7 separate regions of the Homo sapiens genome follow, and regions 1, 2, 3, 4, 5 and 7 are each reported to be linked to region 6. The links are microRNA targets in miRTarBase. Many come from high-throughput screens and were not tested one by one. Region 6 holds a microRNA gene; each other region holds the end of a gene's coding sequence.
The links. Region 6 holds the annotated microRNA hsa-miR-133a-3p (UUUGGUCCCCUUCAACCAGCUG, at 2,549-2,570, opposite strand). A microRNA usually pairs through its seed, bases 2 to 8, with sites in the 3' UTR of a target mRNA and lowers its output. Matches are read on the target gene's strand: a 7mer-m8 pairs with bases 2 to 8, a 7mer-A1 pairs with bases 2 to 7 and ends in A, and an 8mer does both.

Region 1: miRTarBase lists CMTM4 as a target of hsa-miR-133a-3p. Seed matches in the 3' UTR shown: 7mer-A1 at 1,131-1,137 and 7mer-m8 at 717-723.
Region 2: the mRNA of PDE1A is a reported target of hsa-miR-133a-3p. The part of its 3' UTR that is shown has no 7-base or 8-base seed match.
Region 3: the mRNA of DYNLT2B is a reported target of hsa-miR-133a-3p. The part of its 3' UTR that is shown has no 7-base or 8-base seed match.
Region 4: the mRNA of CERS2 is a reported target of hsa-miR-133a-3p. Seed matches in the 3' UTR shown: 7mer-m8 at 1,034-1,040 and 7mer-A1 at 1,434-1,440.
Region 5: miRTarBase lists PLEKHA3 as a target of hsa-miR-133a-3p. Seed matches in the 3' UTR shown: 8mer at 712-719.
Region 7: the mRNA of LDLRAP1 is a reported target of hsa-miR-133a-3p. Seed matches in the 3' UTR shown: 8mer at 249-256, 7mer-A1 at 560-566, 7mer-A1 at 793-799 and 7mer-A1 at 1,344-1,350.

Annotation. Positions count from the first base shown.
Region 1 is chr16:66,618,774-66,622,840 of GRCh38, forward strand. It overlaps CMTM4 (CKLF like MARVEL transmembrane domain containing 4), which reads right to left. Exons shown (of 4, transcript NM_181521.3): 4 at 1-3,449. The coding sequence ends at 3,285. Among named protein-coding and RNA genes, the nearest start is that of CMTM3, 16 kb to the left of the region's middle. RefSeq lists an enhancer at 1,109-1,610.
Region 2 is chr2:182,143,225-182,147,287 of GRCh38, reverse strand. It overlaps PDE1A (phosphodiesterase 1A), which reads left to right. Exons shown (of 15, transcript NM_001363871.4): 14 at 136-252. The coding sequence ends at 209. Among named protein-coding and RNA genes, the nearest start is that of PPP1R1C, 160 kb to the right of the region's middle.
Region 3 is chr3:196,287,672-196,291,738 of GRCh38, reverse strand. DYNLT2B (dynein light chain Tctex-type 2B) reads left to right here. Exons shown (of 5, transcript NM_152773.5): 5 at 365-520. The coding sequence ends at 412. PCYT1A (phosphate cytidylyltransferase 1A, choline) reads left to right here and starts at 4,013. Exons shown (of 9, transcript NM_001312673.2): 1 at 4,013-4,067. RefSeq lists a silencer at 3,587-3,696 and an enhancer at 3,870-4,067.
Region 4 is chr1:150,962,703-150,966,759 of GRCh38, reverse strand. CERS2 (ceramide synthase 2) reads left to right here. Exons shown (of 11, transcript NM_022075.5): 9 at 1-4; 10 at 131-284; 11 at 472-1,574. The coding sequence ends at 612. It overlaps SETDB1 (SET domain bifurcated histone lysine methyltransferase 1), which reads right to left. Exons shown (of 22, transcript NM_001366418.1): 18 at 4,041-4,057; 19 at 3,621-3,786; 20 at 3,019-3,230; 21 at 2,677-2,765; 22 at 2,023-2,513. The coding sequence ends at 2,396. Among named protein-coding and RNA genes, the nearest start is that of CERS2, 10 kb to the left of the region's middle. RefSeq lists cis regulatory regions at 1,271, 1,907 and enhancers at 1,198-1,342, 1,835-1,979.
Region 5 is chr2:178,503,581-178,507,647 of GRCh38, forward strand. PLEKHA3 (pleckstrin homology domain containing A3) reads left to right here. Exons shown (of 8, transcript NM_019091.4): 8 at 180-4,067. The coding sequence ends at 307. Among named protein-coding and RNA genes, the nearest start is that of TTN-AS1, 18 kb to the right of the region's middle.
Region 6 is chr18:21,823,164-21,827,230 of GRCh38, forward strand. MIR133A1 (microRNA 133a-1) reads right to left here and starts at 2,622; the gene lies at 2,535-2,622. The region is part of intron 12 of MIB1 (MIB E3 ubiquitin protein ligase 1); the gene reads left to right. MIR133A1HG (MIR133A1 host gene) reads right to left here. Exons shown (of 3, transcript NR_110369.1): 3 at 2,316-4,067.
Region 7 is chr1:25,566,787-25,570,850 of GRCh38, forward strand. It overlaps LDLRAP1 (low density lipoprotein receptor adaptor protein 1), which reads left to right. Exons shown (of 9, transcript NM_015627.3): 9 at 62-2,100. The coding sequence ends at 206. Among named protein-coding and RNA genes, the nearest start is that of LDLRAP1, 25 kb to the left of the region's middle. RefSeq lists enhancers at 5-728, 729-1,453, 1,454-2,177.

The sequences.
Region 1 (4,067 bases), not on the chromosome of region 6:
CTGTCCCAGAAGCACCCGACATAGGGTGGAGGTCAGACACATTCCCTGGCTGCCCACAGGCGTGAGCCTTCCTGCCAGGGGACAGTAACAGGGCCCGAAGGGCTGGGGGTGCCGCTGGCTTCCCAGGGCCAAGCGCTCAGAGCTGGGCCGGACTTGCCCATGCTGGCTTCAGCTCACATTGCCAAGGAAGATGTGTATTGGGGCTGTGCAGGCTGCCACATTCTTGCTTTTTCTGTAGACAAAAGTCACCTCCCTCGGATGGCTGTTTACTTCAAATCAAACTTCTCTGACGAGATTTTAATCTGAAACTGCATCTGTTCTTCCCAGCTTTATGTGGGGCCAACAAGTATCTCCAGCCTTTCATGACTGTAATCCCTCTTTAAGGCAGGGAAAACATATTTCCCTCCCATGCCTTCAGCAGTGTGAAAGAAGGATATCAAAGAGAATCAGAGGGAAAAAATACCAAATCCACCCAATCAGTGCCAAAATAAACTTTCTCTGAGGACATCAGTGTTTGCATCCATCTAAAACCACCAGAGGTTCCACCAAATGCTTGAGGGTTTCAGCTGTACAGTGTCCAGGAAAAAACCCAAATGCACACAGCAACTGCAGTTTCTTCAAGTTTTGCTTTAAATGTGAAAACCAATATCGTCCCACCAGAACACTGAGAAAAACTAAGGTCGCTCAGCCTTCAAATGCCCCAAACCAAACTGATATTGGTCCCTATTGAAACTATTAAACGCAAAAACGCTTCCTTCAATTTGCCAAGAGGTCATTTTAAGGCCCCCAGATATCGATTGTCTTCTGTTTGCATATAGAGGCAATATAAGAAAAATATAGGCGTCTTCATATTCACCTTGGATAACCCTATTCCCTCCAGAACTTTCGTCACCACGTGGTCTATACATGATGACATGTGCAACCACACATTACATCAACTAGAAAGCGTCCATAGCACCACTTCCGGTTCTAGTGGGAGTTAATTAAATACAAGGAGAACATTTACAAAACCACCGAGGAGCCTCACGGCACAAAGGATATTAAATAGTTACAGGGACATAAATAATTCTGAAGAGTCTATCACGAAGATGCAAATTAACTCCTAAGTCACTCTCTGGCGTGTCATCCTTTTTGGTCATTCATCTGCATTTAGTTTCAGTGACTTCAGAACTATTTCTTGCAGCTGACAACATATCCTCAGGAGGCCAACCACCTGCCCCCCTCTTTCACCAGATGATCAAGTGGTTTTACTGAAGTGAGCTGGGAAAACTTGGGCAACAAGCCCACCTGAATGGTGTTCTTGTTTTCAATCTCACTTCAAAGATGGCCTTTTTTGGGGGCCAAGTAACATGATTCCCAGCAGGAGATTTCTGATAAAGCTCAGGATGGTCCTTCCAAGTGGGCCCCATTTAATGCAAGGCTGAGCCTTTGTGGCCCTATTTTAAAAGGAACTCTCAAAGAGAGATAAGCCCAATTTTGACTTTGCAAACACACTCAACAGACCTGACAGGCAGCACACCCAGCTGTGAGCTGGCCTGGCTGCCCTCTCTGTGGGAGCAGAGGGGAGACGAGTTGTTAACAGGCTAGCAGGGTCAGCCCCTGAGGCAGACGTGGTGCTCAGCCACATAGCCTGGGACACTGCTCCCAACTCAGATCGTACTGAAGGTGTTGGTGCAGGAAGCTAACCCCAACTCCGACCCCCAGCCCAGCAGTGTTGCCTGATCAACACTGTGAGCTCAGATGCTGTCCTTTTCTGGGGAATGAGACGCCACATGTCCATAAGGTGACGCTTTCTTGCACAGACCCCCCGCCGCCCCCTCGGAGTTATTTATTACACAGTACGCTGCTAAAGCTGTCAACATTTGTCAGCACTTGATCTTGGGGATTTCTCCATGTTACTGCAAAATCTTCCTGCCACAGTAAGTGCTTTTTGGTGAGGGCTAAACACAAAATGTTAGAGCTAAAGTGAGGTTTGTAAACATTAAAAACAGTTCAAAGAGGGAAAACCTGACAAACTAAAACAACTTTTTTCCATAAAAGATATAATTACTCTCTAATTTTTTAAAAAAACTACTGCATCATGGGGACTCACTGAACTCATTCACCACACACAATAATCTTCACTTTATCAAGAATCAATCAGAAACCTTAAGTAGCTAGGATTTTTCCCCCCAACAACTCCCAAGAATGATGTCTACAGTTATGACACTGAGGCGCCCAAAGCGACAATTAGTGCCTTCTGAAACATGGGTGGAAGGGTGTGTTCTGGTGCAAATTCAAGTATTTTCAAATCCTAGACGAATCTGCTCAGAATCATTTTAGAACTCTTTGCAGGCATTTAGAAAATTAGCACACATCCCTAAAATAGAGGGGTGTGTGTGTGCATGTGTGCGCGCACGCGTGTGCATGCTGTTTTTTAACACAAACACCTCCCACCTGCGGTTCATGAAGCCAGCAAATGGGCAAGTGCTTTGGCTGGTGGAGTAGGCTTGTTTCTTTCATGGCTTTTACCTGAGAAGGTAAAATGACTGAAAATCTGCAATTCAGCCTCAAAGTATTTAGGGTAGGCAGGAAACTGGAAAACAAGATAGTCCCCATAACAAGATGGCCCCCATATTCCTGGAGAAGAATCTGGGGTTCAGGAAGGTGATTCATTTGAGGAAGAATCAAGTGATTTCTCAGCAGAGTAGGAAACAAAAGGTCACCCTTCCTTGAGTCAGAGGTCCCTGGGAGCCATCCTAACAGGACATCAGCTTTCCCCAGCCCTGTGGCCTTTGGGCTGGTGCTGGCTGCCTGGGGGCCCTGGCATGGAAGATGAGGAGTGGGCTGGATCCCAGCACGCAGACTCAACACTGACTTGGAGCAGGTGGTGCCTAAGGCTGCCTGAGAACCACTGCCGACTGACCGTTCCAATGCTGTCCCTTCATTCCTTCATATTTCCCCCCTCTTAGCAGCCCCATTTAATCCAAAGTCTTGTTACAAATACACACGACAAGGTGGCTCAGAGTCAAAGGAAGCCTGTGCTTCAGGGCAGGTAAGACCTCAAGTGGACCTGGGCAGTGACGCCGGCTGCTCCACAGCCCCAAACGCTGAGGAACGTGGGCCTCCCAACTCCACCGCGGACCCGCCCACTGGGCCACTCGGGAAACCCTTTCCCAAAATGAACTTTTACCAAAGAGGACAAAATTCAACTGAATCACATGGAAATCTGACAGGACAAGGGAAAGAAAACTTGACTGAGAGACAGGCACGAGGACGGGAGGGAGGAGGATCCAGGCAGGTCCTCACGTGTCCAGGCGCTGGATCTCAGGGCGACTGTCCACATCCCTGGACTCCGTGCGGGCTCGGATGTAGTCATTGGTGCTCTGCTGGCGGACGCTGACTCTCCATTTCTGCACTGCCAGGAATGTGTTCACTGCATATGCCGCAGTCGCCAAGAAGCCAAATATCTAAAAACACACCAGCACAGTTAGTCCTCGGGCACGTGGCCTGGCCCCTCAAGGCTTCTGTGGTGACCCAAGCCACATGCAGCCCCTTCCTGCTCTGCCAGCTGATCATTACAACCCTGTGCCTTCATTCCTTGATCTCTTCCCCCTCTCAGCAGCCCCATTTGATCTAAAGTCTTGTTTCAAATACATATGACGGGGTGGCTCAGAGTCAAAGGGAAGCCTGTGCCCAGCCCTGCTGGATGTGTGGCTGTCACACCACAGCTGAGTCTCTAGTCATGTGACACACAGAAAATCTTGCCTGACCTAAAGACAGCCTAAGGTTTCTTTTGAAGTATTTTGGACGTATAAAAAAATAAATCACAAAAGTACCTCTTTTACTGCAACTTCAGGGCCTCTGGTCCCAGATGAGAAAATACAGTGCAGACAAAATGTAACATAGACAGAAAATCAGGGTTTCGCATGTGGGTCCCAAATCAAGCCACAGGGCCAATGTTCCACATCACAGCCCCCATCCCACACCTGCCTCTCATGGGGCAGCTCCAAGTAAGCAGCTCCAGAGTAAGAAGCACAGAGTTTTAATTATTAAGACTTACAAATCGCCTGAGTGGCACCTGGGAG
Region 2 (4,063 bases), not on the chromosome of region 6:
GAAAAAATGTGCCACAAAATCCATTGTAAAATTCAGTCTTCAACATTTTATAAAGTTCTTCAGTCTCCTAACCTTATTAGTTTTTTCCAAAGCCTTATTTTGTTTTGTTTTGCTTTTGTTTCCTTATATTTTTAGGTGAATCTGATCTTCATAAGAACTCAGAAGACTTAGTAAATGCTGAAGAAAAACATGATGAGACACATTCATAGGCCCGAAACACCTTAAAGACTTCTGTCATTTTAAACATGAGAGGTAATTTTATTTTATAGACCAGAAACTTAACTTCTAAAGTAAATGGTTTGCAGAATACCATTATGGATGAAATTTTCTTATTTAAATGCCCTCCTAGAGTTTTTTTAATCTCTATCATCAATCCTTTGAGACAAAATCTTAACAGGTAAACTTTAAATATTTACCTTTTCAAATAGTTCTTAATTTGTTAATCAACAAAAATTATATTTACTGGAACTGAAATTTTCAATCTTTAAAAATAATTTTAAAAATGGCCGGGCACAGTGGCTCATGCCTGTAGTTCCAGCACTTTGCGAGGCCAAGGCGGGCAAATCACAAGGTCAGGAGTTTGAGACCAGCCCGGCCAACATAGTGAAATCCTGTCTCTACTAAAAATATAAAAAATTAGCTGGGTGTGGTGGCAGGCACCTGTAATCCCAGCTACTTGGGAGGCTGAGGCAGGAGAGTTGCTTGAACCTGGGAAGCAAAGGTTGCAGTGAGCGAGATCAGGCCACTATACTACAGCCAGGGTGACAGTGCAAGACTCCATCTCAAAATAATAATAATAATAACAATAATAAATACGTTCATGGGGATGTTTAATCCTCATTTCTTTTTCCACATCATGTAAGAAATATAAATGTTTTAGACTGATTTCTTGTTTTATTTCATGTAAAAATATGTTTATACCCAGTAATTAAAACAAAGCAAGTACATATTATAAAGCAAATATCATGTTCCTTAAAATCTGTGAACATGTGCATCTATGGTTCTCTTTTTAAAAATTCAGCTTCTAGGGCTTGTTTTCAGTCTACCAAATTATTAACTCTGGGAGTGATGCCTTGAAAATTTGAATTTTTGATAAGCCAGTCTGTTGATATTTCTGTCCACTAAAATTGAGAACCACTGTCTTGAACCGATGGCGGAGATATGGGCAGTTAGAAAGGAGGGATGTGTATTTACAATGGAGATGTCTTAATATCTACTAAAAATAAGAAGAAGTAAAGAACAAAATCCAAGTGTTATAACGCATCCTGTTATGGGGGTGGTGGGTTGGGGCAAGAGAAAATGCTGAGGGTACCATTCCAAACCTTAGAGATGTTATTATTAGTTCCACAGCTGTTACTTTAGATATGAAAGTGTTAAAATGTGATTCGCTTTTAAAATAATTTCTTCCTCAATATTCTTGAGTTACAAAGACAGTTAGTTGTTAGACTGTCTTTTATTCATAAGAATAGTTTTGTGAATAGCAACAATAAAGTGTCAGGCACTGTGGTGAACATCTTGTATATGAAGTACCTTTTTGCATTTTTCTTTTTTTATTTTTGGAGACCGAGTCTCGCTCTGTTGCCCAGGCTGGAGTGCAGTGGCACAATCTCAGCTCACTGCAACCTCTGCCTCCCAGGTTCAAGCAATCCTCCTGCCTCAGCCCCGCAAGTAGCTGGGACTACAGGCACCCACCCCCAAGCCTGGCTAATTTTTTTGTATTTTAGTAGAGACAGGGTTTCAGCGTGTTGCCCAGGCTGGTCTCGAACTCCTGAGCTCAGGCAATCCGTCTGCCTCGGCCTCCCAAAGTGTTAGGATTACAGGCGTGAGCCACTGCACCCGGCCCCTTTTTGCATTTGTGTGCGGCCCGCTCAAAGTAAATATAATATTTAAGCCCGAGCAGACGATTTGGCAATTTTTTTTTTTCTGTCAAGGCCAGTTAAATTATTTAGCTTCCTTCTCAGTTTGAGAAAGCCCTGCCTTTGGTGCACAGTCTTCTGGGAAATGTGATCTTCAGTAGCACCTTATAAATTTTATATGTTCACTAATTATGTAACCTCAATAGAATTCTGCTGCAACTGAGTTGATACAGTCCTACAGTATATGTTAAAGGAATTATGTCAAAGTTAATTGGTGCAAAGTTTAATTGTTGGAATATCTTTACTCAAACTTCAGACAGAAATTCACATAGCTTCCCAAAACAAGTAGGTCTTTTAAATGAGGGAAATGAGTGAGGTCTAAAAACAACAGGAGGGGTGACGATTGGCAACTGTGACTCAGGCATGGTGTCTGGGAGACAACAGGCAGTGATCAGTCCTGGAAACAGAGAGGACACAGCACACCCAATCTGAAGGCTACAGTCAGCCACTCTTTGGCTCTGGCAGATTTTTACTCTGGCAGAGTAAGGGCCCAGTGTTGCCAGCTGTTTCTAGTGGTTAAGAAAGGTTCTTAAAGTAAACTCTTCCAATTTTTCCTATTGGCCCAAAGTTTTTTGAAATGTTTTGTGGACAAGAGAAAAATATATCTGAGGGTCAGATTTGGCATGCAGGGTTTCTGTTGCAAATTTAGCACACCTTCTTTGTGACTGATAGCTAATTCTTTGCTGGCTGCCATCACAGAAAGTGTAGATGTTATCGCAGCCTGGCCATGTCTCTGAAAGCCATTACCTGCTTTGTTCTCAATGTGTAGGTCCCACTGTGAGGCAATTTCCCAGAAAATATTGAGCTCTAATTAAATCTGTGCCGTGTTGAGACTTCATAAATCAATGTGCAACACTACACTTAGGACAAGAAAGAAACCCTTCAAATCTACTTTTCACATTGTTGTATAATTTCGCCATCATTTCTAGGAGATTTTAGACCACGAAAGTGTTTTGTTTTGCTTACATTTTTCTTTTGTGTTTTTGTTTATTAAAGGAAATAAAATGGAATGGTTGGATATATAATCCCAGGCTGCTTTATTATTTAAAAAGCTAATGGCATATCATTTATCACATTATCTTTCTTGAAAGATATGTCAGGAATTTCTGGCATTTCCAAAGCAAGCCACTATCAGACCTGTTACCCACTGGGAGGAAAGTGTTCCCTATCACGACCGGTGTCTACTCTTTAACGTTGAGTGTGCTATCCAACAAGAGATCAAAATTGATCATTTGTTGCTGTATTTAGTCAGTAGACTTGCCTGGACTTTCACACTGATTTAAAATATCTTTTGGAATATCTTTAGGCAGGGCTTATGTTCTTTAGTTGACTACAGTCCCTGTGAGTCTAGTTGTTTTACACTCACACTGGCCCACTTAACTCATTTACACTACCTGACAGGCCCGTATGCCTATCTGATCTAGAGAACCAGAGTTTTTACTGGAATTGAACACACACACATACAAACACACGCACACACACCCAGAGCAGAAATAGGAAGAGAAATTCCAACTGATGTAAAACCACTATCTATTAGAAAGATAGTAAAGAAAGCCAGGACGGGTGCGGTGGCTCATGCCTGTAATCCCAGCACTTTGGTAGGCCGAGGTGGGTGGATCATGAGATCAGGAGATCGAGACCATCCTGGCTAACACGGTGAAACCCCGTGTCTACTAAAAATACAAACAGTTAGCCGGGCGTAGTGGCGGGCGCCTGTAGTCCCAGCTACTCGGGAGGCTGAGGCAGGAGAATTGCGTGAACCCGGGAGGCGGAGCTTGCAGTGAGCCGAGATGGCGCCACTGCACTCCAGCCTGGGCGACAGAGTGAGACTCGTCTCACCAAAAAACAAATAAAATAAAATAAATTAATTAATTAAAATTTTTTAAAAAAAGAAAGCCCTTATTTTTGACAAGGTATGTAAAGTGCAATGTGAATTGCCACACAGTAATTGATACCTGTGTATGACTAAGTGATGACCTTCAGTTTCTATGTTTTCTTTTCTTTTTATTTATTTATTTTTAAATTCACAAATAAAAATGGTGTGCAACATGTTTTTTTTTGAAATTGTGGAATGGCTAAATCAAGCTGATTAACATATTCATTACTTCACATGCTCATCTCTTTTTGTGGGGAGAACATTTAAAATC
Region 3 (4,067 bases), not on the chromosome of region 6:
GGAGACCAACATGGGTGGATTGCTTGATCCCAGGAGTTCAAGAACAGCCTGGGCAACATAGTGAGACCTCATCTTTACAAAAAATAAACAAAATTAGCCTGGTATGGTGGCAGGCACCTGTGGTCCTAGCTACTCTGGAGGCTGAGGTAGAAGGATTGCCTGAGTGTAGGAGGTCGAGGCTGCAGTGAGCTGAGATCACACCACTGCACTCCAGCCTGGGTGATAGAGTGACACCCTGTCTCAAAAAAGAAAAAAAAAATTGGAAAGATCTGAGATGGTGTTAGTTTCAGTTGCCTGTGCTGCTCTCATTCCCTCTTTAGTACTAACATTCTGGATGTGTGTGTGTGTTGTATTTATTTTTTAGGACAGTTTATTCTGCGTTGTAGCAGCATTTGGCTGTTTCTACTACTGAATGAATCTTTGAAAAGCTGGTAAAAGACATGACCATGAAGAAATCTGAACTTTTTAATATTGTTAAATATCTTGACAAAATAAAGATGTTAGTAGTTTGACAACTGAATCTGTTGTGTTTTAGGCCTTATATTTTTAATGTTTTGATTTTGTTACACTATGTTCTGTTTCTTTCTTTCCTTCCTTCTTTCTTTCCTTCCTTCCTCTCTCTCTCTCTGTCTCTCTCTCTCTCTCCCTCTCTCTCTCTTTCTCTCTTTCTTTCTTTTTTTTTTTGAGACAGAGTCTCTCTCTGTCGCCCAGGCTGGAGTGCAGTGGCACAATCTCGGCCCACTGCAACCTCCGCCTCTTGGGTTCAAGTGATTCTTCTGCCTCAGCCTCCCAAGTAGCTGGGACTACAGGCAAGTGCCACCACGCTTGGCTAATTTTTGTATTTTTACTAGAGACGGGGTTTCACCATATTGGCCAGACTGGTCTCAAACTCCTGACCTCATGATCCATCCATTTCAGCCTCCCAAAGTGTTGGGATTACAGGTGTGAACTACTGCGCCCGGCCCTACTATATTCTTGTTACACTGGAACACAGAGAAAAAAGTAGGGGAAAAGCCATTTCAATTGTTCAAACATAACCAATGGTAAAAATTTTGGTATATTTTCTACCAATGTTTTTTATTTCCAAGGTTTAAAAAACATATAATTTTGTACCCTCATTTTTCATTTCTCATGATGTTATGAACAGTTTTTATGTCATTTTATTTGCATTATGATTTTAAGATGCATGACTTAATAGCGGCATTTATTTCAATAGGTTATACCATATTGTTATTTTTGCCAGTTCCTTATTGAGGGTCTGCTTATTTCTGATTTTTCACTATTATAAAAAATAAAGACATGGCTTTATTTGTGCATAAAGCTTTTTCCTACATCTTTAAAATAACTTTTGAATTTATTTATTTTTATTTTCAGAGAATGGGCCTTGTTCTGTTGCCCAGGCTGGGGCACAGTAGCGGGACTGTAACTTGCTGCAGCCTTGAACTCTTAGGCTCAAGTGATCCTGCCACCTCAGCCTCCTGAGTAGCTGGGACTACAGGCATGCCAACACACATGGCTATTTTTAAAAAATGTTTATTTTTATTTTTTTATTTATTGAGACAGAGTGTTGCTCTGTTGCCCAGGCTGGAGTGCAGTGGTACGATCTCGGCTCACTAACCTCTGCCTTCTGGGTTCAAGAGATTCTCCTGCCTCCCGAGTAGCTGGGATTACAAGCAGGCACCACCATGCCCACCTAATTTTTGTATTTTTTTTTGTACAGATGGGGTTTTGCCACATTGGCCAGGCTGGTCTCAAACTTGTGGCTTCAAGTGATCTGCCTGCCTTGGCCTCCCAAAGTGCTGGAATTACAGGTGTGAGCCACCACACCTGGCCAGTAATTTTATTTTATTTATTTAGTTTTTGAGACAGAGTCTTGCTTTGTCACCCAGGCTGGAGTGCAGTGGCGCCATCTTGGCTCACTGAAACCTCAGCCTCCCAGGTTCAAGAGATTCTCCTGCCTCAGCCTCCCAAGTAGCTGGGATTACAGGCATGCGCCCCCACGCCTGGCTAATTTTGTATTTTTAGTAGAGGCAGGGTTTCACCATGTTGGCCAGGCTGGTCTCGAACTCCTGACCTTGTGATCCGCCCATGTTGCCCTCCCAACAGTAATTTTATTTTTTATAGAGATGAGGCCTTGCTATGTTGCCCAGGCTAGTGTTGAACTCCTGGCCTCAAGTGATCCTCCTGCTTTAGCCTCCCAATATGCTGGGAGTACAGGCATGAAACACCATGCCTGGCTGCTTTTTCCTACATTTTGAATTGTTGCCTTCATCTTTCTCACACAGTGTTTTTGCTCAGCTCTTGCCATCCTATGTCTTACATAGCTTATTAGCCTAAACACCCATCCATTTTCTTTGTCCACAGTGTCAGGGTCTTATGAAATTCATCCTCCCTTAAGACTGAGATTCTGATGTTGGTTACTATCTCAACTCTATTTTTGTAGTGATGTTCCCCTTAGAGGCCGCGGTGTCTTCTCCAGCTAACTGTCCTTATTTGGGGTACCTTAGTCTAACCGCCATGTTCAAAGACATATTTGAAATTCAGGTTTAAATCCTTTTTCCCCCTGGAAACTCCTCAGCAGATGCAGTTATACCCATCCTCTTTCTTCTCAGCCACTTTCAAGTTAAGCATGTAGACCAAGCTTGTCCAAGCCGCGGCCCAGAACAGCTTTGCATGCGGCCCAACACACATTTGTAAACTTCTAAAACACATGAGGTTTTTTTTTTTTTTGCGATTTTTTTTTTTAAGTCATCAGCTATTGTTACTGTTAGTGTACTTTATGTGTGGCCCAAGACAATTCCTCTTCTACCAATGTGCCCCAGGGAAGCCAAAAGATTGGATACCCTTGATGTAGACAAAAAAAGCAAAATAAAATAAAAAAAGCAAAGCAACAACAATAGCAACAAAAAGTTGACTGGGCGCGGTGGCCTGTGATCCCAACACTTCGGGAGGCTGAGGCGGGCAGATCACTTGAGGTCACGAGTTCGAGACCAGCCTGACCATCATGGTGAAACCCCGACTCTACTAAAAATACAAAAATTAGCCGGGCGTGGTGGCGCATGCCTGTAATCCCAGCTACTCGGGATGAGGCACGAGAATCCCTTGAACCCTGGAGGCGGAGGCTGCAGTGAGCTGAGATCGCGCCACTGCACTCCAGCCCGGGCGACAGAGCGAGGCTCCGTCTTTTAAAAAAATAAAAGAATAAGTAAATAAGTTTAAAAGGTCTTTTACTTCAGTCCAGTTGGTAACTAAAAAATAATAATACATTTTTTTTACATCCTTCTTCCATAATATTGTGTAGCCTCTTACATCTACGGAATCAAAAGGGATCCTTCCCAAGGTTCATTCTAGCAAAGGAAAACGTTTCTTTCCACCATACACCCTGCGACACGTGTCTTAATCCACTCCTGCTCAACTGGCTCCCAGTGGATCCCTAGGGATTTTTTTTTTTGGAGCCAACGTGGGTCAGAAAAAGGAAGAGGGTGGGTCAGCCACAGGTTTTCAGCGGACTGGGCTGGCGGTCGCAAATTCCCCTTACTTCCCCACGTAGGTAAAAGCTAACGCTGCGGCGAGGCAGCCGCGGTCGGGGCGTCTCCGCTGAAGGCGCCCGGGCCTCCTGCACGTTGGCTGCCCGGGTGCGGGGGTGCGGGCTGCGGTAGGCGCGGAGGTGCAGCGGTAGGACCTCCGCGCACAGGCCCGCCTGGGCGGACACAGCCCGAGTTGGACACGGGAGCAGCCGGGCAGCGCGTCTTGACGGACCGGCGAGCACTTGGGCCGGTTCACATCCGTATCCCACTTCAAGGAGACGTCTTCGCTGCATCCTCCGGTTCCGGGTGGAGGCTGACCCTGGGCCATTCCGTCTCCGGTCTCTGGTATTTCTGCTGGGTCACTTCATCCCGGGGGCCTCTGAGGAGGCGGAACTACTGTGTCAGGAGTCGTGGTTTTCAAGGAGAAGTCGTGGTCGGATTGACAGAGGTAGGGGAAGTAGGCGGAACTTCCGGCTGGCTCTTCCATCAGCTGCCTTCCCCGGGCGTCTCCCCGCAACCTCCTCAACTTCCCTAGTCAGT
Region 4 (4,057 bases), not on the chromosome of region 6:
TCTGGTGAGTAGGCAGCTAGGCTACACTCCTGTTCTGAAGAAATCAGGAGCCTTGCCTTTCTTCCCCTCCTGTATCTCCCCGGTGTCTGACCTGCTCTTGTCCACGTTCTCTCTCTCCTTGAATCCTCAGGATCCTGCATTGCACCCTGGTGTACCCACTGGAGCTCTATCCTGCCTTCTTTGGCTATTACTTCTTCAATTCCATGATGGGAGTTCTACAGCTGCTGCATATCTTCTGGGCCTACCTCATTTTGCGCATGGCCCACAAGTTCATAACTGGAAAGGTGAAGCCCTGTTCCCATTGTGTAGGCCTTACTACTCTCTACAACTTCCTGAACTCCCATCTTGCCAGTAACTCTCTAAAAAACTAGTGTGGAGCCCTGGGTATAACAGGAACAAGCCCTCAGAGAGAAGCAGTACTTAGGGGTTTGAGGATCTCATGTAATAACCCTTCTTGTCCCTTTTCCACAGCTGGTAGAAGATGAACGCAGTGACCGGGAAGAAACAGAGAGCTCAGAGGGGGAGGAGGCTGCAGCTGGGGGAGGAGCAAAGAGCCGGCCCCTAGCCAATGGCCACCCCATCCTCAATAACAACCATCGTAAGAATGACTGAACCATTACTCCAGCTGCCTCCCAGATTAATGCATAAAGCCAAGGAACTACCCCGCTCCCTGCGCTATAGGGTCACTTTAAGCTCTGGGGAAAAAGGAGAAAGTGAGAGGAGAGTTCTCTGCATCCTCCCTCCTTGCTTGTCACCCAGTTGCCTTTAAACCAAATTCTAACCAGCCTATCCCCAGGTAGGGGGACGTTGGTTATATTCTGTTAGAGGGGGACGGTCGTATTTTCCTCCCTACCCGCCAAGTCATCCTTTCTACTGCTTTTGAGGCCCTCCCTCAGCTCTCTGTGGGTAGGGGTTACAATTCACATTCCTTATTCTGAGAATTTGGCCCCAGCTGTTTGCCTTTGACTCCCTGACCTCCAGAGCCAGGGTTGTGCCTTATTGTCCCATCTGTGGGCCTCATTCTGCCAAAGCTGGACCAAGGCTAACCTTTCTAAGCTCCCTAACTTGGGCCAGAAACCAAAGCTGAGCTTTTAACTTTCTCCCTCTATGACACAAATGAATTGAGGGTAGGAGGAGGGTGCACATAACCCTTACCCTACCTCTGCCAAAAAGTGGGGGCTGTACTGGGGACTGCTCGGATGATCTTTCTTAGTGCTACTTCTTTCAGCTGTCCCTGTAGCGACAGGTCTAAGATCTGACTGCCTCCTCCTTTCTCTGGCCTCTTCCCCCTTCCCTCTTCTCTTCAGCTAGGCTAGCTGGTTTGGAGTAGAATGGCAACTAATTCTAATTTTTATTTATTAAATATTTGGGGTTTTGGTTTTAAAGCCAGAATTACGGCTAGCACCTAGCATTTCAGCAGAGGGACCATTTTAGACCAAAATGTACTGTTAATGGGTTTTTTTTAAAAATTAAAAGATTAAATAAAAAATATTAAATAAAACATGGCAATAAGTGTCAGACTATTAGGAATTGAGAAGGGGGATCAACTAAATAAACGAAGAGAGTCTTTCTTATGCCTTCCTTGCAGTTATGTAATATTTTCTTTTTTAAATTTCACATGCATGTAATTTGAGCACTTTGAGGGGCCAAGGAGGGTGGATCACTAGAGGTCAGGAGTTTGAGACCAGCCTGGCCAACATGGCGAAACCCCATCTCTACTAAAAATACATCTAGCTGGGTGTGGTGGCGGGCGACTGTAATCTCAGCTACTTAGGAGGCTGAGGCAGGAGAATCACCTGAACCCGGGAGGCGGAGGCTGCAGTGAGTCGAGATTGCACCATTGCACTCCAGCCTGGGTGACAGAGCGAGAACTCCATCTAAAAAAATTCACATGCAAGAAGCAAAGGTAGACAAGGTAGAAGATGAATGACAGCAGCCCACAGGGGAGGATGGGGATAATACCTCACTGAAAGATCCAGAATTGGGAGTATCGGGCTGAGAGAGAGAAACAAAACCACAATCTTAGTTTTATCATATTGTTAAAAGACTTTCAAGAAATAATACAAACTGGAGATAGTAGATACACAGGCTCCATTCTAAGAACAAAGTCTGTTAGAAGCAGGAACACTTGGACAAATATGGGATGGGAGGGATGTCAGGCCGAGGTTAGAGTGGTGATCTCTCCCCACCCTTTAGGGCCTTTGGAGGTGGAGAAGGGATCCTGCCTGCTAGCACCACATTGGAAGGGATCATCTGGTCCAGAACCCCCATTTCTATCAACTAGGAGCTGGGGGGAGTAGCTAGCCCAGAGACTTCGGGTCAGGGTTCAACAATCAGGAAGACCCAGTTCCTGAGGAAACGACAGTTCAAGAAGGGTTGGGAAGAAGGCTGTCCTCTAAAGAAGACGTCCTCTGCATTCAATGGCCCCACAGCAACAGAGTAGCTCCTTGCCTTCCACACTGCCCACCTCGTAGTTGTAGTCCCAAGTAAGTTCTGTCCCAGCCCGGATTCTTCTGAAGAGGAAGAAAAGGATGGTGTGTGGCAAAGACAGCAGATAACCCAGGCACTTGGGGTTACTGAATATGTAGGTGGAGTTGGATCATGAATGGAGGAGGGGCCCTTAGAACTTCAGTGGTCCTTGCCCCTCCCCAGTCATCCCCTTTCCTGACTCCTTACTTGCTGGCAAAGAAGGCCACCCAGGGGAAGCGAAGATCATGGGTATCCACGAAGACATTCTGGACAAACAGGTTGGGGCTGCAACTGTGCTGTAGGTTTAAGGACAGGATCAAATAAGAACCAGGGAAACTGAACCTGGCTTTGCAGGGAGAGTGAGAGTTGGAAGAAAAATGATGCCATCTGACCCTCCCCATTATAATAGATGCTTTGAAAGAAAGCTACCTCTTTAAGATCCTTTGAGATCAAGAGTTTATAACAAGAAAAGGGCTTATAGAGTATGTTAAAAGAAATCTGAGGACCATGGGATAATCCAGCATCTAGAGGTGGGGAGAGGGGTCTCACGTTGAGGTAGCGGCCCAGGTTGCCTTCAAGCTTGGCATCAATGATGTAGCAAGACTCCTCGCCATCATAGAATTGGCGTGTGTTCTTACGAACAGGTGCGCTCTCCCCCTTGTCCACAGAGGCCATGTTGGTTGATTTAATTGCAATCCCATGGGTTGATTTAAGAGCAAAGCCTCGGGTTGATTTTACTGCCACTTGACGCTTCATTGGACCTGGACAGGAGGGAGAATGGGGTCAGGACCCATCCCAACTCATGAACAGACATTCTATCATGAATGGACATTCTACCCCTATTTCTCTCCCAACATTGCAGCTGAGAAACACCAATAAGCTGGAACTCAAAGATCCTAAGTAGCAGGTTTTTTTTTCAAGCATAATTAGATCTGCTAGACAAAGGAGCTGAGGGGAAAGAGTAAAAAAATGGAAATGAGAGAGGATGTGTCAAACAATAGTTTAGCTTGGAGTCAGAAAGCCCTCCCAGAGATGCTCCAATTCTTAGGATCTGAATTTTTACCCACTACTTCTTTAGCTTCCTTAAAAAATGCTCTATCCCAAGTTTCTTACTATTTCTTCCCACCATTCCCAAAATTTTTCCAGGCTACCAGTCATGTTCTTCTTGTCCTCAAAGTCATCCCCTTCAGAGCCAGAGGATATGGTCTGGATATCATCACTGTCAACCGCTGTAGCCGAAGTCTGACCAGCAGTGGGCTTTCGGCTGGTCCCACTTTCCCCCTCACTTTCTGTGCTGCTGGACAGTGTCAGGACATCCTGGGGAAGCAGGAGGGTAAGAAGTAAGAGAAGTAAATGGGAAGGGCTCCTTTAAGTCCTTGCTGTTACCCACGGTTTGGCAGGAAAGGGCGGTGGCAAGAGGAAGATTAGATGCTGGATGAAAGAAAATAAGGCAGGAAGTCAAGGCTAAAGAAGTAGGAGAAGACCTAACAGTAATTATAGTGAAGGACTTGATGAGGTGACAATGGCCCATTTTCCTTTATTAGACTCTGAATAAGCTTGAGGTGACTTACATCAGGGTTGGACTGAG
Region 5 (4,067 bases), not on the chromosome of region 6:
CTGTTGATACTCTAGTCTAAAAGTTAAGTTTTCCTGCATGAAACAAACAAGGAAATACAAAATTAGCCAGAAGCTAAAGGAATTTCATGTCCCTGAACAGGAAATTTAAAATGTTCTTTCACAGAGGACTGGAGTTAATATTGACAGGATGTTTAACGTTTTTATCAATGTCTTCATAGGACCTGTTCACTGTTCAAAAAATACACTTAATGGAGATTTGGCATCAGCAACCATTCCTGAAGAAAGCAGACTTATGGCCAAAAAACAATCTGAATCAGAAGATACTCTTCCATCCTTCTCTTCCTGAAGAAACTGAAGTGTCCAACTTCCTCTAAGTATTGCTATGCAAAAGCTGCTGTAATTAAACTATTGTTATAGGGAGTAGTTTTTTCCCTTAGGACTCTGCACTTTATAGAATGTTGTAAAACAGACAAACAAGAAAACAAACCACATACTTTTGAAGTGTATTTTATCTTTATATAGTTTGTTTGCAAGAGTATTTTCCTAATAACTTCACAGTATGAATGTGCATCTTTTTTTTTTGAACAAATGATGGTGTAACATTTTGACATCCATAAGGACAAATGTAGATATTTTTCTTAAAAACTCTGAGGGGACTGACAGCATGGTCAGGGTGTATTGTAGCTTATAAACATGAAATCTTATAAGGTTTCAGTTTGACAGAAGTGTGATATATGTAACTTGTGCCATGGACCAAATGGTCACTTTACCACAGCTAAAAATGAGTTACGATAGCAGCTTGATGGTGATTGTATTGTATTCCTTTAATCAAAAAGGAAACACAATATTCTAAGTATCTTTAGCCCAAATACCATGACATATTGAGCATCTTTAAATAACCAGACTGTATTGTCCTTCATATGTGAAGTTGACACTACTGATTTGTCAATACCAAATTTTGGGTTAAAGTGTTTAATTTTTATGTATTTATTTTCTTGTTGCCTCAAAAGATGATTGCATTCTAACTTTTGTGACCTACCAAATTTAAGATGTGTATACGTTGTTCTTTACGTTGTTCTAGAAAAGAGATTTTAATGCTGTAGTGACTTTGCTCACTTACACTAGAGAAATAAACAACTTTCAATGGAAGAGAATTTTAGTGCTTTTTTTTTCCTAAAATAGATATTAAGCTGCTGTTGTAAAGTATTGTTTGCAGCTCTTTCCAATATCTAGAGACATTTTTATTTATGAATATTTATACAAAAAGGAATTCTGTCAAGATGACTGCTCTATATCACTTGAGAATGGCATTATTTAATTAAAGAACAAATAGCATTTTTTGGTAGTGCCTGTCCATACCTATTGTCATTGTTTGCCTTGTAATCTGTTTTTTTGAATTCATTTTGGGCTGATAGTTTTGTTTAAGGTTTTGGATAAGGAGCACTTTAAAACAAACTGGTGTGTTGTTTTTAAGTTAATCATATGTTTAATAAATGCGTGGTTTTTGCATTCAAACACATCATATAATACATTGTATTTTTTACATTCATTGATATTCTGTCTAATCTTTATTAGGCACTAATATAATTCTAATGGATTTGAGTTTGTTTGTATATTTAGGCCTGCTGGTGAAGACACAAATGAAGCATAATTTTTGTTGCCTGTGAGCTTAGAATGGTGTGACCTATTTCATTTTATTTCAATTTATCTTGTAAGTTTATGTGGGATATTTTAAAATAATTAATATTTGGTATTTGTTTAAAAAACTGTAATTATAGGCCTTCCATCTTAAGTTTAAGATGGACATAAACAGTCTATACATTAATATGTGTTTGGGTAAACTGTATGCTACTTGAAGTGTTTGTAATTTTAAATAACACACAGGTCATCAGACTACTCTATATTCAGTGGAGTCTTTGCCTGCTCATAAGTTGTACTTCATATGTCTAATTTGAAAAAAAAAGTTTGATAATGTAGTAAGTTATGACGTTGAGCAGGTAATCAGGTTTTTCTTGTTTTTTTTTTTTTTTTAAATTTTGTAGTAAGAACTTGCACAGTATTAAGACCATGAAGGTCAGGGTGCTATTGATTGGGAGTTTTTTCTGGTAGTGAGTTTTTTTGCAGTAATAGGTTTATAAGGAAAACACCGTAACAAGCTTTTGAACTTATAGAAAATAATCACATCCATTTTCTATTGCTTTACCCAAATAGATGGGTTCGTGAAGAGTTTTCTGTGAATATTTTAAAAATACAATGCAATTATTTCTGGTTTGTATCATTTTTTCCCCCTTAAAACAGGTCCTTGAACAGGTTTGCGGTATCCCTAAGTATGTCTTTTGTTATGACTTGGAGCCACTTTTTGTTGTTATTGTTAGGAACCAAACACATCTGTGAAATCATTTTTTTTGTGGGAGTATAAATATATCTTGAATTATATCCAGGTTTTGATCAGTGAATTAGTAGCATGAAGAAACCTATAAAGCTTAAGGGAACCTTGCATTTTGAGGAGTCCTTTATTTTCAAGTGTGCCTGACTTTTTTGAATTTTAAGAAAAAGATGAACCATATAACAATTCTGTAAGAATTTTAGCTTGTCAAGTTGTTCTATACTTTATAGAAAAATTATTGGTTATTATTAGTTATTAGTAGTCCCTTTTTTTTGCTTTGTCTAGGTCATGGGGTTATTGAGAAACATGAAAAGTTATTGAGAAATTTGGAGGTTCTCTTGGCAGCCTATCAGTGATCTTCTAAGCAAAAGCAGTGCTTGTTTTTCATTTCAAGTGCTTGCTCACTATTCTTTGGGAATCGCAGGCCTCCATGACTAAAGGGATTTTGATACAATTCTTTTATAAATGAGCTGAATTTGAATTTTCTTACATCATATGGGATTATTGCATGATCTTCAGTCAGGAAAAATCCAGAAATGGATGCTATTGCTTAAACTTAAATTCCAAGGCAGAAGATAGAGTATCTTCATTTCCACAGATGCCCTAGAACCTTTGACCTTGAATTGTAGTTTTTCAGTATGTATTATCACATTTAGAAATGTAAAAATCACAAGATCTCAGGAAATGCGCCCTTGTGATATGTTAATACCAGATTGCTGTTTACACTAATTCCATATACATGATAATACCACTAATTTGGACTCTGCTAGTTCTTTTATTTAATAAGGCACCTCTAGGTCTGTACTTTGAGCCTTGATCTGGGTACTTGGTACAGAGGGAGTGTCCTGGCCTGAAAGAAAGCCAGATTAGGCTGCAGGAGTTCCTTTGAGGAGGTCTGTCTTTTAATAACCCTGGCGGGTAAATGAATGGTAGGTAGCTGGTAGGTAGGCCTTCTTGTTCATGTCTTTCTGTCTCCCCAATCCACTCTTTGAATTCATGTTGAATTCTTAACTTGAAATTCTGTTGTTTTTTTTTTAATTTTAGCTTTCTTTTTATTAAACTAGTTAATGTACATAGTTTGAAAAAATCAAATAGAACTAAAAGGTTTATAGTGAAAAAGTGTAGTTCCCTCTTCCCCAGTTTAGCATTCCAAAGACAAACACTTGGAACTCTTAGTGGTTTGTGTTAGTATTTACCTTCCTGTTTGAAAATGTTATACTACTTTTTGTTGACTTATCAATTTCAGAAACAGTTTCTCGAATACCTTTTATGGTAGACAGGATTTACTTTACTTAAACTCTCCACCTCCCACATTTTTCTTCCCCCACCCCTCCCAAAATAGATTTATATTCACACAACTTTTAGTTAGAACAAACTTTTTGTGAAATAGATAGACATAAATGTAGTTCACTGATGTACCACATGGTTAACTATCATTATTTCCTTTTTACTAGAATGTTATTTTTTCTGGGGTTGGTATTGCCTGATTTTCAAATTTGCTTAGTTTTTAATGTACCTGTCACAATGACTATCCAAAGGCTTAAATGCTGAAAAACATCAGATAATCGTATCAATTCTCTTAAAAAAGTTTTTAAAAATATTTTGTCATCCTTTAGGGACATTTCTTCCACAGTCCTTCATCTTCTGCCATTTGTACTGTTGCCCTCCAGGCCTGTTCTATGGTTCAGCAGTCATTCTGAAACTCCCTTTAGTTTTTAGT
Region 6 (4,067 bases):
GCAGAGGTTGTAGTGAGCTGAGATTGCACCACTGCACTCTAGTCTGGGTTACAGATCAAGACTGTATCAAAAAAAAAAAAAAAAAGAATCAGCTGGGTGTGGCATCACAGACTTTTAGTCTCAGCTACTTGGGAGGCTGAGGCGAGAATATTGCTCGAGCCTAGGAGTTTGAGACTGCAGTGAGGTATGATCGTGCCACTGCACTACAGCCTGAGCAACATAGCAAGACCCTGTCTCTAAAAAAAAAAAAAAAGAAAGAAAAGAAAAGAAAACCAGATATAGCACGTTGTTATTTCCAGAACCTGATGAAGTGTCTAGATGTCCTATATTTTTGAAGACTGTCCTTTGAAGTCTCTATTTCAAAGGTGCAGATCAATATGAGTCTAGATTTCAAAGCTGATCTTGATGTTTTCTCATAGTATGATAGTAACTGAAACACATTAAGAGAAAAGAGTTACAAAGCCATTTATTGTTGTCTTTTAGAATTGTGGAAGGGAATATAAATTTTCACTATGAGACCCTGAGTACTTTGGTTGTGCTTTATAAAGTTTGGAGCATTTTAAGTAGAAATTACACCATGTTTTAATACAGTTTTGTTTTTTTTGAGAAATCTTAACTAAGAACAATGCTGTTTGTCTGTTCTGATAGTTAATATTTATAGGCATGTTTTCATCTAGAGTTTAGCCATATTTATCATCTCTTAGTATATAGGTAAAATTTTGGATTTAAAGTAAGAGTAGAAATTATTTCTGCTGATAAAAGTGAAAACTGAATTTCTTTGGAGTAGCATAATCAGCATGTTACTTAGGTACTTTCTGTAAAGATGCTGCATTTTTAGCTGTTTTTAGAGCTCCCTTACAGGCATGAAAATAAATTAGTCAGCAGTATTCTCTGCAGAGCTGGCAAAAACAATCGATAGGTATTTTGGAAGTACAGGTAACAATAATATAATTATAAAGTTTATATAGTATTTACGAATTTTTCTTGAATAGAAATTGAATGTGAAAAGTAAACGTAAAATATGAGTGAATCACCTGATGTGATATATGTTGTTTTTAGGTTGGTACTAAGATAATTTCACAGGCGTTTCTTATTTGCTTACTAATTCCCACAAAGACACATATTACAAATCTTACTGAATATGTGAGCAACTCATAGTTTTCCTTCTCGAATGTTGTGATGCTTTTTTTACTTTTTAAATTCTGAAATATGGTCTGTAAACAAGACTATGTTGGCTATTTGAAGATTTGATAAGCTGTACTGTATTTTGGTGTTTAATGCTTTCCTTACAACTGTAAACATGCTGAGTGCTATCTACAAAATATAGCTGAGTCTATTCGGTAATAGGATACTTAGAGTGTGTTTTCTCTAATGTATGCTCATGCATCTACTCTCAAACACCATATTCCTTGTAATACACAAATGTACTTTCTGTGACTGAGGTGTAATTAATAGGAGGAAGAAGATCTTGAATGAAGTGATAAGATATATATTTATATATGTCTCCTTTTGCCCACAGTCTTTTAGAGAATGATGTTCATTTTGAAATGGAGGAGTGGTCAGGAGTTGAGAATGTGTGAACATCTGGGTCTTTAAACTACTCTTGTCTTCAGTAATCTTCATTAATTGCTGAAATGTTTGTCTCTATTAAATAATATTAAATTATCTATAGTTTTATTGCAATCATTAAGAAAATTATACGGATGTTAGAGTAATTGTCACTTTTTTTCTTTACTTCAGTTTATCCCCACTGAAGGAGAATATTGTGTGTATATTTTTTATAAGGGACAAAGAAGACAGTGAGGAGAGTCATAGTATTTATTGTTAGCAGAGTTCTTCATTTTACAGCTGTGAAAACAAATATGGAGAGGTGAAATATTTCATGAGTAAAAGTAGTGATGCTTAGCATTTTCTTTCTTTTTTGAAGACTAAAAACCTTTGATTCAGGGTCAGAAGAACTAGATAACTGTTTTAAGCCTCTCCACAAGATATTCTACAGTTATCATCTTTTTCACCTTACCTGCTAACATTCAGGTAAATAGCGGTAAAATTAAAGGCCAATACTATGGAAGATAGTGACTAAACATTTCTAGAGTGTTATATAATGTTACAGTTTTCTTTAATTTAAATATGCACACATCCATGTAAACCACACTGTACAATCCCATTATGTGTTCAGGTGGGTTTTAGGTGACCTTTCCAGATATTTTCTTCCTTTGAAGGAAGTTTTTGTTGTTGTTGTTATTATGAAGCATAGCCTACATTTTATTACCAGTTCTTTTCTTTTCTGAAGGATAAGAAATTTAATACCAAGAGACCATAATAAGTAAAATTTTTATTTGAAATCCTTAAGTCATCCATACATTTTTCATAAAGCTTTTTATAAACATCTTTAACCATTCTAGCTTTTCCAGGTAGAATTAACAGTAACAAGTTATTTGATTATAATCACAGTCTGCATAATGTAAATAAGTTGAAATTAGTTGGCAAGTAATTGATATTCACAAATGAAAACGTTGGTTGTCCCGTAGTAATCAATGCATAGCTACAGCTGGTTGAAGGGGACCAAATCCATTGAAGAGGCGATTTGGTTCCATTTTACCAGCTCTAGCAAAGCATTGTAGTGCTGCTAGTTTGGAATCCAAAACAGTTAAATGCTTTTCATTGGTAAAATTACAGTCATGGACCTTCTACAAGTGTTAGAAATTATCATACCAATGCTTCAGTCACTGAATGTCAAATTTTCCATTTTGAAGTCACTTTCCTACTGTTTTCCTGCGCTTAATGGTTTAAAAATCTTTTCCTTTTAACACATTACTGCATTAAGGAATGATCAATGTACGTCTTTGTTTTCAACATCTTTGCTTCTTTTTCTTTTTCTAATCTTGTCCACAGCCGAAGTCTTTGCTTAATTCTTACATGTAGACAATAAGCTATTTCAAAACCAATAGTATTTAAAGGAACAAATAGACCTTGATGTATTTTAGAGTAATGTTTTCCATTTATCTCTAGGCAGCAAACCAGATAAATAGTTAAGCTAAAAGGTTGGGGAAGAGTTCAGTTAGTCACCCCCTTCTACTGCCACTGCTTCTTTTAGCATTATAGTTGAGGGCTAATAGCAAATTGTTGATGGGTGTAGGAATATCAGTGGCCTTAAGAAAGTACCTCTGCCCTTTGATTTATAAATAGATCACATGTGTATTCAGTGTATTGCTTGGACTTGTGTCGAAAGGAACTACCATGCATGCCAGTTTTTCTTTGTTTTTGCTTACGTGGTGTTACTAATCATAGCTTAGTAATTTAACCCTTTTAAAGGTCTATTTCCTTGACTAAGTTCTTTGTCATTTTGGGTACAGATTGCCAAGTTACTTCTCATTATCGCCTTAGTAATACATGGTGGTTAGTTACAATCCATGGATACAAGTATTAAAATCTATTGTGTGGATAATACTTGAAAAATCAGAGTAAATTTTTGTTATAATGTGGTTTTACTGTTGATTTCAATGTCTTGAGAGGGGTGTCTTCTTGCATAAAATAAAAGTTTGATAAATTATAATTTGCCTATAAAGTTAAGTGCTCTCAGAGAAATATAGAGTAGAGAAATATTCTTTACAGTTACTATTTTAAACTGAGAGGTCAACGCTAATTCAGGCAGTATGCAAATGACTCTTACACTAAGTATATTCTGCGTCTGTTGGTTGGTAAGTATCATACTGCTGGTGAAATTAACTACAATTCTTTTTCATCATTTTTTCTAGTAGAAGTGAAACAGGTGTTAAACTGCCTAAACTTAAGTGCTGAAGATAGCAATAATACTGGCTTCTATTTTTACTAGTTATATGGGAGCTGTTTAGCAGATCCAGTTGCTCAAGTGTGTTTTTGGATGGCAGTTCAGTTTCATATACTGGCCATATCGGGGCAAGGAGAGGCCATGGGAAAAAAATAGTACAGCATTTGATAATGTCAGCATCTGTTATCCCTGTCAGGGAGACAGTTGAAATGTTTGAGTTATACCAGTGTCAGCAGATGCCCAGAGTTTAATATGTACTCAGTTAAAAATGAACAGC
Region 7 (4,064 bases), not on the chromosome of region 6:
CTGACCCTGGGGCGCGCCAGCCCTCACCCAGGCTCTCGGCTCACACAGCTCTGCCTTCCAGGCTTGCCCAGTCTCGGACAAACCCTCAGGTCCTGGACACTGGCCTGACAGCCCAGGACATGCATTACGCCCAGTGCCTCTCGCCTGTCGACTGGGACAAGCCTGACAGCAGCGGCACAGAGCAGGATGACCTCTTCAGCTTCTGAGGGCCCGGGGCCAGCCGGACACAAGCGGCCCTGACACGTGATGGACCAAAGCCACCTGCTGCGGGGGAGCCAGTTCTGGGGCCCGCCTGCCACCTCTCCCAGCCCTCAGCATTGTCAGCCTGAAGATCAGAGCTGCAGCCAGTCAGGCAGGGGAGAGATTTTTCTTTTAAGCCCTGCTCTTTCTCTGAGAACCAAAAGATGCCTTGAATATTTATTCAGTGACTTCTGGCTTATGCTCAGAAGCCAGTCTGCGTCAGGCACGTCTCCTGCTGCGTGACATGTGCAGTGCTGTAATCGGCTCCCGCTTGCTCTCCTGGAGCAAGCTCTGCCCTGGCTGTGGGTATCAGGACTGTGACCAAAGCATTTCTAGTCCCTTCTCTCTTTCTAAGGACCCAAATTTCCCTGGGGGCATCCTGCTTCCTGAAAGCTGTTGGATTTCAGTGATTTTTCCCCCCACCCCCCAGCACAGGAGAGCACCCACAGCCGCAGAAGGGGAATGTGTCCTCCTGCTCTGCTTCCTCAGGGCCCAGCAGGCGGGGGTTTGAGCCCTGGACCCCAGGCTCTTAGAGACTAAGGGGCAGCTCCTGACCAAAGACGATACAGCTTGGCACTTTAAAGCATTAACAGCAGGTGTGACCCTGAGGGCTCCTCCATGGTGCTGCATTGAGTCCAGCTTTCCTTCTGCCCTTCCTCCAGGAGAAGGGGCCCAAGGTCCCCGTGGATGGTCTCCACCTGTGCTTGGAACCAGTGTAACTGGCTGCTCCCTGCTCCCAGGGACTGACACGGGGATCATCTCTGTGACCGCCCTCCGTCGGGCCCCTGCCTGCCTTCTCCCCTCCACGCAAGGCTGTGCTCTTCCTCTGGTTTCTGTGTGTCCGTTTGAGTGTCTGCGCCCCGCCTCCCCATACTTCCTGGGATGATGTGTGAAACCTGACACCTAGATTTATTTGGAAATATTCTATGACCACTTTACAGATGAGGAAACAGGCCTCAAGCGTGGAGGGGTAGAGTGAAGAGTAGAACCCAGGTCTGATGCCAAAGCTGCTTTCTTCTCTGCCTCCTCCTCACGCAACTCACACCTCCTTTTCTTCTAGCTTTGTTGTCCTCCCAGGAACCAAAAAACCCCAGCTATTTTCTGACCAAAATGTGTTTCATAACAAACCATCTGGTGCCTTTCCACACAGAACTGGCAGGAGCCTCGTGTCCTGCTAGCTGTCTCTCTTGTTGATTTCCGTGAAAATGCAAGTGTTTGAAGTCTGCTCATTCCGAGGGTGAAACAAAATCCAACCCTGTCAGAATCATGCTGTTCTCTTTGCTGACACTGTGACCCTGGGTCGGGACAGACCAGCAGCAATCTGTCTTTAGAATCGCTTTCCTTCCTCCCCTTTTGCCCCCGTGGGGCTCCCGGCATCCTGAAAGCCAGCAAAGCCTCCAGCATCTTTTCCATCCTGAGGTGCCTCCCAGTGGCCTGGCTTGTCGGAGCAAGTTTCATCAGCCCTAGGGAAAACACGGCCCTCCTGGGAACCTCCTTACCTGGAGTAACCGGACACCTTAGACGGAGGTGCCTGAGGGTGGGGTGGGATTTGCAGGGTCATTATCAGAACATGAGGATAACTTCCTTGCCCCTGCTCTGTAGCCACCTCCTTGGCACCGGCCTCTATTTGTCATAAGGCGGCGTGGGCGAGGCCTGACACAGGCCAGCCTTGGCACGAGGGGGGCCAGGGGTTCTGAGAAGCGCTGCCCTGTGAGAGCCACGCTGGCCTTCGTCTCCATCTCTGGTTGACGGGCTGTCCGTGTGCCTCCTGTGTGTCTGCAGACAAGTCTTGCTGTGCTTTATTTGTGAAACTTTAATGAGGAAAAAACAAATAATAAATGTTCTCGTTTTGAAACTCAAGCAACGCTCATCAGGTGGAGTAGACTGGCGGCAGCGTCCGGCGGCTCCTGCCCTTTGGGGATGGCAGCAGCAGTGACCACAGGCTGGGTGGGGCCGCGTGCCCAGGGGCAGCACTGAGTGGGGGTGATGGTCTTAGGTTCCTGGGGTTGAAGGCCCAGTGGGGCCCCCTTTTCACCCAGCAGCTGGGTGTGTGTGTGATGAGGTCACCTCTGGATGACTCATGGAGGCTACACCAGGGATCTGGTGCATCGGCTGAAGCGTCTGAGAGCCCCGGCGGGGGACTGTGGCCAGGCTGTGAGTCCCCTGCAGTGTGCATGAGGTTGTGTACGTGTCCACGTGGGCGTTTTCCACAGAGAGGATGTCCATTATTTCCATCACTTTTTGGATCCGCAACACTTTATCATTCCACAGACTTGCTCCGGGCTGAACGTGGACTGGGCCTGGGTCTCAGTACTGGGGACAGGGGTCCAGGCGTGGCCCAGATGAACTCAGGATGTGTGGTTTGGGTGTGTTGGGGGATGGTGGGAAGTATTTCAGTGTCTTGAGAGACTCAGGGTCTAGCCCTAGCTCTGCCACTTGGAGGCTGTGACACTTGATCAGTCACCTCTTGAGCCTTGATTTTCCCGTCTGTGAAAATGGTGCAATGACCTCCCCGCTTTTTACCACCCTGGGTTTTGTGTGACTCAGTGGTGACCATCATCACATTGTTGGTAGAACACTTGTGCATTCAGGTTATCTCAGAACCAAAGGCAACTGGAACTCAATATGTCTAAAAATGGTAAAGTAAAATAGTTAGCAACCAGTGTTAACTGAGCTCTTACTATGTGCCGGGTGTTGTGCTGAGCTCTGCACCATATTGCAACGGTTGTGCTGAGCGCAGATGGCAGATGGCATTAGCTCCCGTTACTGCTGAGGACACTGGGCTGGGAGAGGAAGGCAGCTGTGCTTCAAGTGCTGGGCGGGGCCACAGCTGAGCCGCCAACCTGTGTGGCCCTTACCCCGCCATGTCCTGGCTTCCCAGGAGCCCAGTCTGGCCATATGCTGCCCGAGACCACCTGTTGACCTGTGCGGTGACCCTCACAGAAAGGCCACTCTCTTCAGGTTCTTTCAGCCACTCTCCGGAGATTCCCCAGGCCTCTGCCCCTCAGCTGTGGCTTGTGGGGGTCCACTTGGACATGTATCTCTTTATCCCTTTGAAACTGGTATTTTAAGCGTCCAGAACCCAGAGGCAGAGCCCTCATATCAGCATCAGGCTGACTCCCTGTGAATTCTCAGTGGTTCATGGATGACTAAGAAATCCTCCCCTTTCTTCTTTCCCTCATAATCTGAAAAGACACCCAACAAGTTTATCTTTCGGTTTAAATTTGGCCAATGTCTTTAGTCTCCGGATGTCTCGGATTATGAATCCTGAGCGCCAGCCGTCTGCTCTTTCATGCATAAGGGATGAAGCCAGGGAGAACAAAGTCGCCTTTCAGATTTGACGTGACTTTCAGCTTCACTGGGTGGATGTTGGGGTCTGCTCTCCCAGGAAGAGATCCCATCCCATGTACATCTGGGGACTTTTCAACAAGCCTGGCTAGGGAATAGGGGCAGATTCACATCTGGGGGGCTGGCTTGGGGCCTGGTCTTCCTCCGGCCATTCCCAGGTGCTCATCAGAGGAGGTGCCCGTTTGTATATTAAGAAGTAACCCGGCCGGGCGCAGTGGCTCACACCTGTAATCCCAGCACTTTGGGAGGCCGAGGCAGGCGGATCACGAGGTCAGGAGATCGAGACCATCCTGGCTAACACGGTGAAACCCCGTCTCTACTAAAAATACAAAAAATTAGCCAGGCGTGGTGGCGGGCGCCTGTAGTCCCAGCTACTTGGGAGGCTGAGGCAGGAGAATGGCATGAACCCAGGAGGTGGAGCTTGCAGTGAGCCGAGATCGGGCCACTACACTCCAGCCTGGGCGACAGAATGAGAC